Regions from separate parts of the Homo sapiens genome. Here region 2 is linked to region 1. The links come from fine-mapping of genetic effects on plasma protein levels. A gene starts in region 1. The other region holds a variant in brackets. All regions are shown on one strand. Distances are from middle to middle. Region 1 holds the start of ANGPTL1 (angiopoietin like 1). Region 2 holds the start of C1orf220 (chromosome 1 putative open reading frame 220).

What was found. PIP is the posterior inclusion probability: the model's chance that the variant is causal. The UK Biobank Pharma Proteomics Project read protein levels with antibody pairs (Olink). The fine-mapping took linkage between variants from a reference panel, not from the people measured, so its PIPs are less certain.
Region 2: its variant is fine-mapped to the plasma level of the ANGPTL1 protein (UK Biobank, PIP above 0.99).

Annotation. Positions count from the first base shown.
Region 1 is chr1:178,869,453-178,877,789 of GRCh38, reverse strand. It overlaps ANGPTL1 (angiopoietin like 1), which reads left to right and starts at 6,713. Exons shown (of 6, transcript NM_004673.4): 1 at 6,713-7,049. It overlaps RALGPS2 (Ral GEF with PH domain and SH3 binding motif 2), which reads right to left. Exons shown (of 20, transcript NM_152663.5): 9 at 155-292.
Region 2 is chr1:178,534,775-178,543,111 of GRCh38, reverse strand. It overlaps C1orf220 (chromosome 1 putative open reading frame 220), which reads right to left and starts at 316. Exons shown (of 3, transcript NR_033186.1): 1 at 227-316. LOC124904460 (a long non-coding RNA gene) reads left to right here and starts at 467. Exons shown (of 2, transcript XR_007066748.1): 1 at 467-1,078; 2 at 1,286-2,549. RefSeq lists silencers at 82-151, 182-511 and enhancers at 562-621, 5,524-6,723. The variant C/T (reference allele first, on the strand shown) is at 5,020.

The DNA.
Region 1 (8,337 bases):
TGGCAAAATAAAACAAGCATTATTTTCCTTTACATTAGAATGGAAATAAGAAATTGATGTCCCCTGCTGTGTGAAAAGTGATCATCAGTGTGTGTAAATAAATCACTGGATTACAGCAATCTTAATGGCTTGGCATTATCCCCTAGAAACTTACCATATTCACAAGACTGCTGTAAATCAGAAATTATTCGAAGGATATTATTCATTAAATTTGATCTTTGCTCATTTTCTAGAATGCTGCCAGTTGATGGGTATGCTGAATCGATGTATGTTAAATCTGACAAATAGATACCTGAAATACAATTAGATAAATGAACGTTTTCTTAGTTGTAGGTTGGGAGACTATGACAAAGAAAAGGGGGGAAGGGGTTGTTTATAGATATATTCCACTGTACGCTACATTTAAAATATATTGCTATTAATACACTGAAGCCTGGGTAACATATGGTTACTGGGGCCTAGCTTTCCATACAGTTGGGGTCAGACATATACCAATTTTTTGTAATAATATGCTATTTTGTAAATGTCTTCTTGTGATTTCATTTTCAAGTATAGTTTGAGGCTAGAGTTAGAAACTCCAGCACATATGGGAATTAATGGAAAGGAGCTGAGTTCTTCAATTGGCTCTGCCTCTGACTAGTTTCATAATGGAGAGTTATTTTAAACTGAGAACCTCAGACTTAAAACCTATGCAAGTATCCATTTTCCAAGGTGTGTTACAACTTGAAGATATTAATTTAGCCAGCAGCCCAGCCACTGACTGACATAGGGAAATTATTTAATATTTGTTTTTACTCTCTTGCCTTGAGTTGATAGCTATCATTTGAGTCTTAACTACTTTGAAAATTATCTCAATCTGGTAGAAATGTTTTACATTTTAAAGATCAACAAATAAATTTCTGAAATGGTTCATGTGACTACAAATTGAAGTTAACTATTTCTTACCCTCCATGCTTTTTGTACCAACAAAAATAACACATCCTCTAAAATTTGGTTGTACTAGTCCTTAACATGAAAGGTCACTTATTTAAGTTTATTTCTGGAGAGTTCACAATGCACATGTGAAATGTATTAGACAACTATAGCTGGAGAGAAAAGAAAAACATACCTTCCTACTTTTACCCCATTACTTCATGTTCATGTACTCTCAGGGTAAATGCAACCAAAATGACATACCCACTGCCTTCTAAATAAACCCTGTTTTTACTCAGCTTTTTCTTATACCTAAAATGTTTTCTGGACTTATCTCTGCCTATCCAAATCTTATATTTTGCTTATCTAATTCGGTGTCAATATTCTCTAGTTTTCTCACAGATTCCAAGAAAGGAATTCAGACACTGTCTAGTCTAATCCTCTCCTTTTATAGATGAAGAACCTGAAATACATAGATAGTAAAGGGACCTGTCTAATGCCATGCAACCTGTTAGTGACAGCTGGATCTCAGACGTTTCACTTATAGCCCAATTTAAAAAAAAATTACTTATATTCTATTAAAAAATCATACATTATGTGTGCTTACTATTCACTTAATGACTTTTATGACTTCAAAATCTCATTACTTATTTTTTTTACATTTATATCTTATCTATTCAAGACTGCAAACTCATTTAAGGCAGTTGCTCTATCTTGCACTCCAAGAGAAAGAAAATCTTGTGCAATGTTTTGACAATAGGTGCTTAACATAAAAGGTTGGCATGGCAATCTTTTTACTCATCCTAGTATCATTCATTTTCCACTCAGTAAATCTTTACAGTATTCTTTAAGTCACCTATCATACTTTTTTTTCTTTAGATAACCTCAACTTTATTTCCCTATGACTCCAAATGAATCTTGAGGTTCCAAATGAAGCTGAGGTTCTTCCCACTTTCCCCAATCTTGGAGGAAGAATCATCTCTCTCTTCTTCCGAAATCTCAACTGTAATTTTGAATGCAATCGTTGCTGCCTCCTTCCAGACAACCACTGTTGCCTCTACTATCATTCACCCCTACTGGCTCCTTCCCCAGAGCCAGTATACATATTTTTTTTTAAACCATTTTTTTTTTCAAGAAAGAGTCTTGCTCTGTCACAGGCTGGAATGCAGTGGTGCGATCTCGGCTCACTGCCACCTCTGCCTTCTGGGTTCAAGTGATTCTTGTGCCTCAGCCACCCGAATAGCTGAGATGACAGGCATGCGCAACCACGCCTGGGTAGTTCTTGCATTTTTAGTAGAGATGGGGTTTCACCATGTTGGCCAGGCTGGTCTCGAACTCCTGGTCTCAAGTGATCCACCCGCCTCAGCCTCCCAAAGTGCTAGGATTACAGGCATGAGCCACTGCACCTGGCCCAATATACATGTTTAAATCTCCCCTACTTATAAAACAAAATCTAAGCAACTCTTCCTTCAAATCTGATCCCACGCCTCAAGATAACATCCTTGTCCTCCCTTCAACAAACACCTTGGAAGAGAAACATACAATAGTACACTTCTTTTATTCTTCGTTCTATTTTTAATGTAATATTTGATACACATGTGTCAGGAAAATTGTGAAAAACTTTGAGATGGGAAAAAAGATTACTGGGTATCCTGTCTCCAGTGCACCCATTTGGTCCTTCTGAGCTATTTTACAACTCTGCACAGCTGTTGAAAACTGGTAATACAAATTATTGTCCATAAACATGCCAAAGAATTATGTCCAGTGGGATCTAATCAGTGATGACCAATTTTGCAACTATTTGTAAATTTACTTCAGCGTTCCTGATTGCATATATGTGTGTTACTTTGAATTCTCCCTTGACACATTTTTGATTCCCTTATAAATTTAATAATTTAAATGAAAATTCTGACACATATTCATTTCATATTTGTGTGAGAATCGTGATTTCACAAAAATTATTGCCGGGAACGGTGGCTCATGCCTGTAATCTCAGCACTTCGGGAGGCTGAGGCGGGCAGACTGCTTAGGAGTTTGAGACCAGTCTGGGCAACATGGTGAGACTCCTGCCCTAAGAAAAAATTATCAACACATGTGACACTTGTTGTTATCAAACAACATAATAAACATTTGTGAAAGACCAGTCAACTTATGACTACAACATCCCTAAGGAGAGCTAAAAGATTCCTCAAGGAAATGGCACGGGGATGTTGGCATATGTACATCAATAACAGCAATAGAAGATATAAAAAAGTAGCACAGAAAAGTTTAAACAGGAGTTTCATAAGAATTCTGTGCAAAAAAATGTCATTCCTTGCTGATGGGATCAGAGAAAGCTTCAAGGAAGAAGTGGGATTTGAGCGGGGTACTAATGTGCCAGTTCTTGCCATTCTTCCATCTTATTAAACTCAGATGACAACTCGCCTGTAGTCACTCGCTATACTGTGCTGTCCAATATAACCACTTGCCACATGTGACTACTGTTTCGTGGGTCTATTCTGAATTGAGGTGTATTTGAATATAAAATAGACAAGATTTTGAAGAGTTAACATGAAAAATTAATGTAAAATATCTATTAACTTTTTTATTGGTTACATGTTAATATTTTAATATGTTGGGGTAAACTACTTTAAAAAAGAACTACGACATCATCAATACTGTTGCATCTATCTGTATGTTCCTTCTCTACTTCATCTCCTTGCTTCCTGTCCAGAAGTAACCATTACCTTGAACTTTAAGATCATTCCCTTATTTTTTCCCCGACATTTGTCTGTATTCCTACTTTTGCCTATTTTTGAGCTTTAAAAATCATATTTTATTGTATGTGTGGATTAAATAATAGTATTTGTAATGTTAGAAAAGTGTCTAGTATGGGAGGCTGAGGCAGGAGAATGGCGAGAACCCAGGAGGCGGAGCTTGTAGTGAGCCGAGATCGTACCACTGCACTCCCGCTTGGGTGACAGAGCAAGACTCCGTCTCAAAAAAAAAGTGTCTAGTACATACCAAGTGATTTATAAGCATTTATTAAATAAAATTTAAAAATATGGTCTTCTGTGGTTGCTTCGTCTATTTTGTTTCTAAGACTTGTCCACGCTGTTAAATGCTGCTGTAATTCCTTATAATGAGAACAAGCTAATGTGTGACAATTGTAACTCATCCATTTTATTTGATAGACTTTTGAGTTACTCCCATCCCACCCCCAACCATGTTGCTATAGACATTCTTATACACATCTCCCAGTACACATGTACAAAATTTCTTCAGGATATACAAACATGCCTAGGAGCAAAACTGCCAAGTGCTAAAGTATATTAATATTCAACTTTACAAGATGGTGTCACATTATTTTTCAAAGCTGTATCAATTCATACTCCCACTCACGGTATATAAGCTTCTGTTGATCCACATTTGTGCTAACAATTGGTATTATCCATCTCAATTTTGCCAATCTTCTGAGTATAAAATGGTATCTCTCTGTGTCTTAATTTTTATTTCCTTGATTAGTAATAAGGTTAAACGTATATATTTCTATGTAATAAATGTTTCTGTTCATTTTTTCTTTTGGGTTGTCTTTTTCTTATGGATTTCTAATTTCTTAATGTATTGTGGACACTAATTTGTCAGTTAAATTTTATCTAGTCACCCTTCAACACACTAAATAATCTGAAATCTGTATGTATCACTTATTTTGGCAATGGCATTAATAACTTTCTCATTCTAAGTCTTAAAACATCTCTCTTGGTCTCCCCTCCCTATGTAATGTCTCTGCAGTATTGTAACCATTCTCGTCTAGTTCTCAGGTTTTCCCTACCTTGAACTTTCGTATCTTCCCCCTAAGCCCCCACCATTCTTCTTTTTCCTCATGTTTCTTGTAAGCTGGTTTCCTGGAAATTGGTATCATGGTCTGTCATTAACCTTCCTTTACATTCTACATGTACTTTCTCTAGTATCTTAGTTCCATAGCTTTAGCTACTACCTAATTGCTGGTGACTTTCAAATCTCTCCATATAACTGAGCTCCTGACTTTCATTTTCAATTTAACATATCTAACCATAATCTGTCCCTAAATACCTGTCATTCCAATTTCCTACCCTGGCTAGTGATATTACTAAGTGCTCAAGTTAGAAAGCTCCAAACTGCTGAAAGTTTAAAAGCTCAGAAAGAATTTATTATCTCTTATTTTTCCCAGATTTAAGCCATTAGTGACTACAACATAATTACTGAATGCTCAAGAAACGATACATAATACAAATCAGAGGCCAGAAGCTGGCAGCACATCTGTCCCAATGTTTTTTAAAATCAGGAAGTATTACAGGAAAAATCTAAATGGCTCTTTTTTCCTGAATAATGGGAAGATCTGGCAACACTGTCTCATAATCCTTCATGGCCACAAGCACAGCTGAGAAGGTGCAGGCAGATCCCTTTAAATTAACCAAAAGGATGCCAACTTGCCATAAACTTCATTTCCCTCCAGTATCTTACTACTGATTTACTTCACTGATTTATATTACCTGCTCCATTCTTCTTGTGAGCATTTGCCTTTCTAGGCCCTTGTGTTTGCAACCTCTGGTATACCTATATATGGCATAGGAATTCAAATAAATGATTCTGTGAAAGAGGTAGAAAATAAGCTCAGACTTTAAATAAAGGATGTGGATCAACAGTGTGGCCTAACAGAAAGAGAAACACAGCACAAGCTACAGCAATAAGGAAGGGAAAGCACAGGTATGTAGAGAAAGCCCAAAAGTTTTATCTAGAAGCAGCTTACAGCAACTAGGTAATCAATGACAGAGAGTGTGGCATAATGCTTTGGCATTAGATTCAAATCCCAGTTCCACTACTTAGTACTTAAGTGCTAAGCTAAGTTACTTAAGCCTAAGTTTGTGTTTCTTCAGCTACTGAGTTATTTAACATTTCTTCAATTAATGAAATACAATAGTATAGTTGTACTCAACACTTATTCATTTCTTCCACCACCTTATTTCATAGCAGAAGAACCTTGCCAGAGGCAGGTAAAGTGATTTGTCTAAGTTCACATAGCTGGCATAGAGTCAGAGCTTCCTTGTTTTTTACTCAGTTCAGGGTTATGTTTGTTTTTAAACCACACCACATCAATTAATAACAAGAATGACCTTTTACAGAGAGGAGAGGTCATTTTGTAGAATAGGAGGATATGACATTATGTAACACCAGAATGTAATATTTAAAAGTCTTAAGCATCTGAAAGAATTTCACTTATGTTTGGTAATTATATATAAAGGCTGTTTTATCTTAAGACACATTACACAGTAAGACATAACATACTACAACAACATCAAGTTTCTTGTAAGTTTAAAACCTTCATTAGCAACTTAGTAAAATGTTTACAAATTCTTCTAGGCTATAAAGAGTATTTATTACATTATTTAGGTGGCTGCCTCCTGACAAAGTCTAGCTCTTGTTCTTTGTTAACAAAAACCAAACTCATCAGCCTGCAACTACTTCTAAGTGAAGTGGAGCACTATTTTTTTTTTCGGTATTCAACTTAAAAGATCTCTGGCCAGCAGACTAAAATGTTTGTTTTATAATTGCCCGCTGAACTATGATAGTTTGTTTCCAGATGGTGCCCTTCCTTCAACCTGCACACAATCTCTCCTTGTTCAAAACTATTCAACCTCCTGCTGATCCCACCCCCCTATTTAAGGCTACAAAGAGGAAATCCTAAGGAGATTCCCGCCCCCAGTCTCCAGCAATTTTTGGTGATGTAATATGTGGGCTGAACTTGAGTCTACTGAGAAAGAGGGAATCACTATTCAGGGGTACTGTATATACAATCTGGGTCAGCTGCAGCTGGTTACTGCATTTCTCCATGTGGCAGACAGAGCAAAGCCACAACGCTTTCTCTGCTGGATTAAAGACGGCCCACAGACCAGAACTTCCACTATACTACTTAAAATTACATAGGTGGCTTGTCAAATTCAATTGATTAGTATTGTAAAAGGAAAAAGAAGTTCCTTCTTACAGCTTGGATTCAACGGTCCAAAACAAAAATGCAGCTGCCATTAAAGTCACAGATGAACAAACTTCTACACTGATTTTTAAAATCAAGAATAAGGGCAGCAAGTTTCTGGATTCACTGAATCAACAGACACAAAAAGGTATTTAATATTTCTTTTATTTAAAAATATTATGTATAGCAAATGCATAACTATTTTATATTTGTAGTAGAAATTTCAGAATCTTTTACTAAACAAAGACCTTTGGAATATACTACAGTTTATCTCATCTGAAAAAGGTTTTATCTTGCAACTTGACATAAAAACATTAAGTACTGTGCAATGGTTAATGCATTATTTGAGGTTCAATTTAATGATGTTTAGTGTATATGATTACAGACTGATACATGCATGCCATGCTGGGTTTCTGAAAACAAGTGCTTTAGTGACAGTAGAAAGAAATTTTAACAAGTAACAGATTAAATGTATAAGGCTTACAGCACAATGATTAAAAACAAAGGAATACAAACTAAATAGTCGTGAACACAATTAGTTTCTCTTCCTGCAGCCACAGTGTGTGTGCTGAAGATATACATAAACTGTTGGATTTCTCAGTGTAGTCATAAAACAAAGCTAAGATACAAAAATAGTTGAAAGTCTTTGCAACAAAATCTCAATTACAGTATAACCAAATATTAAGCAGAAATTCTTGTACAGATTTAAGATTAATCTATGGCATTTCTTGTTCCAACTCAAAATTTTAAATAGCTTTCCAGGCTTACATGTAATAGTAATTTAATTTGGATGACAGAAATTAAACTTGCTACAAATGGAATCACTTGGAAAAGCTAAGTTATTGATATACACACAAAAGCATTATGTAAGTGGTATTAACAATAGAAAATAAGAACCCAGAAGATGTAATTAAATTCATGACTAAAAGGCCAAAAATATGTAATATTTTAGGTAGAAATAATTTTGTTAAGCACACATAAGAGGTTTCCTTCAATATTCTATCTGGGAGCTTTTTTTACATGCATTATAAAAACTATTAAAGATAAAATTACTCGTTACCAATAGTATGCCTTAAACCAAAGACACTTAAGTTTGTTAGATTTGGGGCTCCTTTAGCCTTGTAAAAATTAAAGATATTAATGGTTAAGAATCTTGAACAAGCAAATAATGGTAAAGCTAAAATTTTTTCCAACTTTGCTTTTGTGTCCTTTCCTTAAAGATTTAAAACTGTAAATGCTGGCAGGATTTCTGTTAAACACATATTTTACAAGAAATTCTAACAAAATTTCCAAGCAACAGTGGATCTGAAATACTGTCATCTCTCTTTTTTGTTGTTGCATGCTATGGGAAGTGCAGGACTTCATTAAGCCTCAGTTCTTACTGACGCTGTCTTAAGGCAGGCATTTAATCTGAACCCCAAATTACACAGATAACT
Region 2 (8,337 bases), 330 kb after region 1:
GCTCCACGCCTCCCCTCCCTCCTGCACACCCCATTCCCCTCCGGTTGCCCCGCCTGGGAAGCCCCCTCCCCACACCTCCCGGCCCAGCATCTGCACGAGAGCCGCGAGCCCTGGCCCAGAGCTCTGGGTGGGCCTCTCACCCCAGACGGCGGCCGCAGCCCGTCCCTGATCACCGGCCGCCTGAGCCCTCCGTTCGCTCGGCGCGAGCGCCGCCACCCGTCCTTACCCCCATCCAGTCCGAGGCCAGCCCCGTAGGCTCCGAGCCTGCTCCGTGAAAAGCCTTTTCCCCAGGAGGAGAGTTACTGTAAAGCAAGAGGAAGCCGAGAAGAGGCGGTGGCTGCAGCGCGCGGGGCCCGGCGGGGGCGCGGGGGCGTCGGGGTACTGACTGGGCAGCGCGGTTTCCCCTCATCCCGGGACACGGTGCGGCGCTAGCGCCACCCAGCGGGCGCGGTGGGAATTGCGCTCCCTTCCTGCGCTGGGGCTCTGGACACACAGGCGACCAAGAATGACGCCTGCAGCCGGATAAACGCTCGGGGCAAGGCCGCTATCATCCCTCTGCCGGGAGTGAGTCAAGTCTCAGCAAAAGAAGAAGCCACTTTGGCCAAAATTCCAAGAGTGCTGATGAAGACGGTGACATCTGACATTTCAATGGCACTTTCCATTTCCCCCGGGGTGCGCATTCCGGGCCAGTGGAGCGCTGCGTCGCCTGTGCAGGACCTGGAGGTCTGCAGGACTGTGACCAGTCGGAGTCTCGGAGTCGTGGGTTAAACATTAGTCGGGAGCACTCGTTCATTCCCTGAGCTCCCCTTGCCCTTCACCCTTCGGTCCCGGAAGCCGGAAGGGAGACTGCCCCGCCCCTTGCCTGCCGCCCAGTGGCTCTCCCGGGGCCCTCTTGGCCCCTCTCTCCCAGCCCTCCATACAGTGAAGGGTTGTTTCCGCTGGTGACTTCCACCTGTGGGAGCAGAGAAAGGAAGCGGGGCAGAGGAGAAGGGGAAGGTGTCAGGCGATTCCCCTCCTTGCGCTGCAAGCCGGGTGGGAATAGAACACCTGCAGCCCTCCCCGGCGCCCTGCGAATGAGGTGGGAGTGGGAACGCCATCAGGGCAGAGCCCCTCCAGCTGGCTGGGGTCTGCACCTCCTCGCCAGCCCGGCCACCTCAAAACGGTGCTTGCCTCCCTGCGGGGGTGTAGAAGCCTCTTGGAGCAGCACTTGTAGAAAATCAAGTCCCTGGAAAGAAGCAAAATTAATCCGTTTGTTTCTCTATTTATTTTTGCTTCCCCACACCAGGTATTCACTTCATCCAAGGCTGCCCAATGTCACCTTCCACCCAGAGGAATCTCCCCTCTCCACCCCAGGCCAACAGCCTCTGCCTTCAGCTGTGGCCTCCACTCTGGCATTACTCTGGGCAGAGGGCTCAGGAGGGCTCAAGGAGGACCAGTGACATTCAGAGTGGCCAGAGTAAAGGGAGGGAGGGGGAGTGGTGGGAGAGGCGTGCAGAAGGCACAGGTGAGGTGGCGGAGGGGGGCAGGTGGTGGGGGGAGCGGGCTGGGGTGGGATGGGCCTGTCAGCATAGCAAGGGCTGTGATGGGCTTGAGTCTGACAGGGGGCAATGACCTGACCTACGGTTTTGTAAGATCACTCTGGCTGCCACCTGGAGAGCTGGTGTGGGGATGATGGCCATGGTAGACACAAGGGGAGCAGTTAGGAGACCACCACAAGTGACCATGCGGCCCAGGCGAGTAGGGTAGCAACAGAGATGGGGAGAGGAGGTCAGATTTGTGATCTGTATCTGAAGGTGGAATGGACAGGAATTGCTGATGAGCTTGGGTGTGGTGCATGAGGGAAAGAGAGAAATAAGCATCATTCTTAGGATTTGTCCTGAGCAACTGGAAGAAAAAGAATGACAGTGGCTAATACGGTTAGCCAGGCGCTCCTCTAAACCCTTCACATAGTTTAACCTGTCTAGATTTCATAACACTCCTATGAATTAGGAATTAGTTCTTCCCACATTTTACAGAAGAGGCAATCGAGGCCCAGAGAGTTGAATCAGTTTGCATAAAGTCCCACCATTAGCAAATGGAAAAGCTGGAATTTGGACCCAGCACTTCACCACTGCACACTTCCCCGGCTTTACAGAAAGAGAAATGCCGTGAACTGAGCTAGATGAGCCCGGGGGAGGAATGGGGTTTTTCCGTGGGGGTGTGAATCAAGAGTTCTAGTTGGAATGAATTCAGGCTGAGGTGCCTTTTAAACATCCAAGTAGAGATATTTAGCTCAGCAGATGGATGTATGACTCAGGCCCTGGGTGGCAAGGAGGAGCATCTGGGGCTGGCGTGTTAAGCATGGAGAGGAGACAGGAGAAGAGGGCAGAAGGCTGGGAAGTGGGATTAAATGCTGCATGTGAACGGATGAGGACAGAAATGGATACTTTAGAGCATCCTGTCAAGCCTTGGGGTGTCGGGTGATGAGTGTGTTTAGGAAATATTATTCTAGAGCAGTGCTTGTTTTTGTTTGAGGATTCAATAAAGGCTGTCACCTTGTTCCAGAAAAAGTACATGAACACACACGCAACATTTTGCATACAATTTCAGGGTGTCCGTGGGTCCCCAGAGGACATGCATGGGCCATTCTATTTCTATCAAACCTTACTTCATCCACCAGCCACAATCAAATTTCACTGTATCTCTCAAGTCCTGACCAGACCTCTGATGCAGTCACCCCACCCTCTCTGTCTGCATGAGATAGGAGCTGCACTCCTCTGAATCGAGACGGTTTTGAATTGAGACGGTTTTGAATGTCTATGTAGAATGCAGCTCGCCCTGCAGGTATTGCCTGTGTACATGTCTCATTTGGAAATGGTTCCCCTGAGGAATGAGAGGATGAACCCACAGAGTCTTTTGCTCTCTTATTCACCTGGGAGGTGATGTTATTCATCTATTTCCTAGATTTATTTGTTTTTTTGGTGTTTTTTGTTTTTGTTTTCGTTTTGAGATGGACTCTTTCTCTGTCGCCCAGGCTGGAATGCAATGGCGTGATCTCAACTCACTGCAACCTCTGCCTCCCGGGTTCAAGCGATTCTCCTGCCTCAGCCTTCTGAGTAGCTGGGATTACAGGTGTGCACCACCACACCTGGCTAATTTTTGTATTTTTAGTGGAGACCGGGTTTCACCATGTTGGCCAGCCTGGTCTCGAACTCCTGACCTCAAGTGATCCACCCTCCTCAGCCCCCTATAGTGCTGGGATTACAGGCATGAGCCACCATGCCTGGCCTTATTTCCTAGGTTTAAAGACAAAACTAGCTCGTTCTATTGTTTCCATCGACACAATTGCTTCCCCAATATATAATGGGCATTTGTTGCTATTGTTCTGTTTGTTTTGGCGGTCCAGCTTCCAGCATCCATTCTATTTGGGAGGATTCCCCGGTGACTCTTGGCAGGAATCCATCAGCCCCTCTGGAAATGGAAGGAATGGAAGGAACCAGGTGTCCCTCTTGTCCCCCACCCCTGCAGAGGTCACAGCCTTCCTATCCTGCCCAGCCCAGTGGGGCTTTGAAGGCTAGGGTGCAGGAACAGAAGAGAACTTATTTTTGGCCATGGCAGCTAGGCCAGGAGACCATCTGTGAGAGTAGCATCCTGTGTCCTGTGGCAGCAGTCCCGGCCACGGTATCCTCACCACAGCCTGGCCACAGCTTGGCCTCGCCTGCATCTCCTGCTGCCAGCCGCCTTGATACCTGCCCATTTTCCCCATGCGGTTCTCCAGCCTTCCGACTGATAAGTTCTGCACATATTTCCCCATGTCCATTGCCTGCACGAGTCAGCCAGGTCAGCTCTGTCGCTTCCACCAAGACCTCTCACTGCAGTGGCTGTGCTGAGCTTGCAGCTGACGTCTGCTCTACAGTGTCAGCACTTGGGATTCTTCTTCTGTTGGGGGTCCCTGAAGGTGGGATTCCTGGCCTGTCGAAGCATTGCTGTGTGACACATGCCAGATCCTTGCGGTTGCCTGTGAAGCTCGGAGCCCTCCATATCGAGGGAGGAAGGCTTTCCTTCCAGCAAAGTCTTGTGGCTTTCAGCGAGAGCGACTATGCAGCAGCCAGACCAACTACAGAGGTCACAACAACAACCCCTGTCCCGATGACAATCCTGTGATTTTCCTGGCTCAAAATGAAGTTTGACAAGTCTTGTTTTATACTCTTGTCATCACTGGGATTTCTTCTGACTTTACAAGACCAACAGGAATTGGAGTCAGACTCACAGGGGAGCCTGAGAGCCTCTCTATCCCACACCGCTGTGGGAGCCACGCCCAGGTGGGGCCAGGGCTGCAGAGGGGGAAGCTGGGAATGGCTGGGCAAGGATAGAGGCAGCTCAGCTTCCCCTAAGCCTGGGGTGGCCTGAGGGGCCCCCTGCACTATGCTGGAACGTACCTTCCTTTCCAAGGAAGGAAAACAGCAGCTTCTGACTCATGACTGTGTCCTCCTGCAGACAAGTACACAGCTCATCCCCTCAGAGTGTCTGAGTGCTGAGCTCACATCTCATGGTGGGGTGTTGCGGCCATGTCGCTGCCCCATCCCACGGGCATGGTGAGGATTCTGTTACTGCACACTCTTTAGGGTCCTTTATAGTTAATAAAATATTGAACCACTTCCATACTGGTTGGTAAACAGCTGCTGCCCTGAGCTGCCCCCACCTCCGACCCAGTGGCCACCTGCCCATCATTCTCCTGGTCCTTTCCCAGGACTGGCCAGGTGTCCCCACAACCTAGCAGCTAAGGGTCCTACCTGGCACAGATTCTGGTGGGTCAGGGCCCATGGTTAAGTATTTGGGGGTATCACCCCACCCACGAGTGTTCTCAGCACGCACTCACTCCTGCCTCTTCTCTGGTCCCCACACACTCAGCCACCCTGTCCCACCTCTTCTCACCACCAAATTAATATGCTCATCCTTCTCACCTCATCCTAGCCCCACCTCCTTCAAGAATCAGTCCTGAGTCCATAGCCCCTGCATCTCCCCCTCACACCCAGAGCA[C/T]TCCGCCTCCTACAGATAGCGCTTCCCAAATACGTCTCTCTCAAAGCTCTTTATGAGTCTTCAATATTTCCTTGGCCGGCTGGCCGATTGATTGGTTACAGAGCCTTGCCTTCTCATTTTCTGGCAGCAGATAAGTGAGGCCGGGACCTCTGGGGCCAGAGGCAGAGAGGCAGAGGTCCCAGGCCACACCTGAAAAGGCCGCCTGAGAAGGGAAGTTTCTGAAAGAGGCCAAGCAAGAGGGACCCCAATGCTGGGGCACTGTGAGCAGTGCTGAGCTGGTCAGTGGTCAGAACAGGTAAACTGGTGGGGCTCAGGCAAAGAGAAGGTCAAAGTGCAAGTCACACCTGGAGCAGGCGGGCATGACGCAAGGCCAGCTCAGCCACAAACCCCGTGTTGGGGGCAGGTGCCTTCCCTCTGGATCAAGATGTCCTGGAAGTGATTGGCTCCTGTTGGACAGGCAAAAGGTTAAGCAACACTCATCCTAGCTTCGAGCTGTCCCTCCCACCGACCTGAGTGGCAAGGAAGTTGCAGGGAAGGGGGCCTTGCTCTGTGCCACAGCTAATACCTGAGAATAGAATTTGGGAAACTTGAATCACAGTTTCCCATAACGTGTCGCGATTGCTTAGAAACTACGTGTCTCCCCTCCCCACAGTCGTCGGGGATCAGTGGCTCCTGACGCGTTTGCTTTAAATCTCTCTGTTCCCTGCCAATTAGCCAGTTTGACTTTCTGCTGTGGCAGGGATGAAAGTCACACTATTCAGCGCTAGACACGGATGCTGGGGGAGGAATCTCATTGCTGTGGAGATGGAATCTGGGCTTGGCACTGCCTGTTCAGCTGCTGAGTGTTACTTTGGGTTGACTCACAGCCCAGCATGAAGCAGGAGGCCAATCTTCGTGCACTCCACAACTCTTCCCTCCCCAGCTTTATCCAGACTGTGTCTTCTGCTGACCAGCTGTTTACGCTTGTACTTGATATGCGCTTGCCAAAGCCTGCAGCATAGAAGCCCACAGCTCAGTCCAAAGCAGCCAACCTTCGGCCTACTAGGATCTTAGCCACACCCCAGAGTCCCAGAGAGAAGTGACTCAGGTTGGACACAGTGGCTCCAAATGACCTCAGGTGACTCACAGCAAACAGATTAAAGGTGACACCCAGTGTCTCACCTATCAACTCAATTTGTCATTGAGTTGGCAGCCATGGCTGCCACCATTTCCCAGCTCGTTCACCCAGCTGTTTTTAAATATGGGCACACCAGCTTAAATCCCAATCTTGCCTGTCCTAACACCACAAGTCTCAACTCTGGCTGCAGGTTAGAATCACCCGAGGAGCATTTGAAACCACTGAAACCCCAGGCCTCCCTCCTGCAGAGATCTCAATCTAATTGGTCCAGGATGGGCCTGGGCATCTGTATGTTTTCAGAGCTCCTCAGGTGGGATGTTTGTTTGTTTGTTTGTTTGTTTGTTTGTTTTGTAGAGATGGAGTTTCCCCATCTTGCCCAGGCTGGTCTCAAACTCCTGAGTTGAAGCGATCCACCCGCCTCGGCCTCCCAAGGTGCTGGGATCACAGGTGTGCGCCACTGTGCCCAGCCCCCAGGTGGTTTTAATGTTCAATGGTCCTGAGAACCAGGGATCTGCCATCCAATTCTGTGAGGAAGGAGGATGCCAGACAGATATGCTATTTTCATATCCAATTCAGTCACCAGCACGTCTGCAGCCTGGCTCATGCCTTCAGTAGAGGACCTTCTGGTGTGAACACTTGCTCATTTCTGACCCAGAATCTTCCATAAATTTTTCTGCATCCAACTCTTTCTCCTTGGGTTTTAGTAATCTGTAAGTTTCTGCTTAATTTTCTGGATTAGGAGTTGAGAGTCCCAGCTTGTGAAACACACATTGCCAAAAAACCTAGTTATGGAAAAACTGGCTGAGATGAGAAAGATCTTGTTCTTACATAATTATGGATTCTCAATCTGTTCCATTTTGTTTATATTTGTTTCTCTGGAGAAATACTTTGTTATACATCATATATATTTTTTGATCTATATATATCTTTGTTTTAGCTTTATTAACTTTGGAGACTCGAACATACACAAAAGTAGACAGGATAGTATCATGAACTACTACAAACCTACCCACTCTCCTGCCCCAGCAATGGCTTAACCCAGCCCCATCCCCACACCCATCAGTTCACTCCATCTTCTATTATTTTCAGTCAAATACCAGATATCATACTATTTTATCTGTGAATGTTTTAGCAGATCACTCGAAAAGAACTTCTTGGGTATCATAACCACCATTCTACTGCACAGCAAAACTAGCAATAATTCCTAGAATTTAAATTTCCCAATTGTCTTAAAACTGTCCTGTGTGAATTATTAAAAAGAATTTGAGCCAGGCACAGTGGCTCATGCCTGTAATCCCAGCACTTTGTGAGGCCAAGGCAGGTGGATCACCTGAGGCCAGGAGTTCGAGACCAGCCTGGCCAACAGGGTGAAACCCCATCTCTACTAAAAATACAAAAATTAGCCGAGCGTGGTGGTAAGTGCCTCTAATCCCAGTTACTTGGGAGGCTGAGGCAGGAGAATCACTTGAATGCGGAAGGCAGAGGTTGCAGTAAGCTGAGATGGCGCCATTGCACTCCAGCCTGGGCAACAAGAGTGAAACTCTGTCTAAAAAAAAAAAAAGAATTTGAATCAGGGTACAAATGAGATGCAGATGTTGAAACTGGCTGATATAACTTTTTAGTCTGTTTTAGTCTATAGATTACCCCTCCTTTTTTTTTTTTTTTTTTTTTTTTGAGATGGAGTCTGGCATTGTTGCCCAGGCTGGAGTGCAGTGGCTTGATCTCGGCTCACTGCAGCCTCCACCTCCCGGTTTCCAGTGATTCTCCTGCCTCAGCCTCCCAAGTAACTAGAATTACAGGTGCTCACCACCATGCCTGGCTAATTTTTGTATTTTTAGTAGAGACGGGGTTTCACCCTGTTGGCCAGGCTGGTCTCGAACTCCTAACCTCAGGTGATCCACCCACCTCGGCCTCCCAAAGTTCTAGGATTACAGGCGTGAGCCACCACGCCCGGCCTCCATGTTCCATTTTTGAGGAACTGCCAAACTGTTTTCCAAAGCAGCATCACCATTTGACATATTCAGTTTGATGAATTTTTACACATAGTACACACCCATATCCCCACCACGAGATCAGGAATAGGGCATCAGCACTCTAGAATCCTCCCTGTCATCCTTGCACTCTAAAGGTAACCCTATTTTGACTTCTGTCACTCTGGATTAATTTTGATGGCCAGGACTTGAGAGGTGATCCGAGGAATG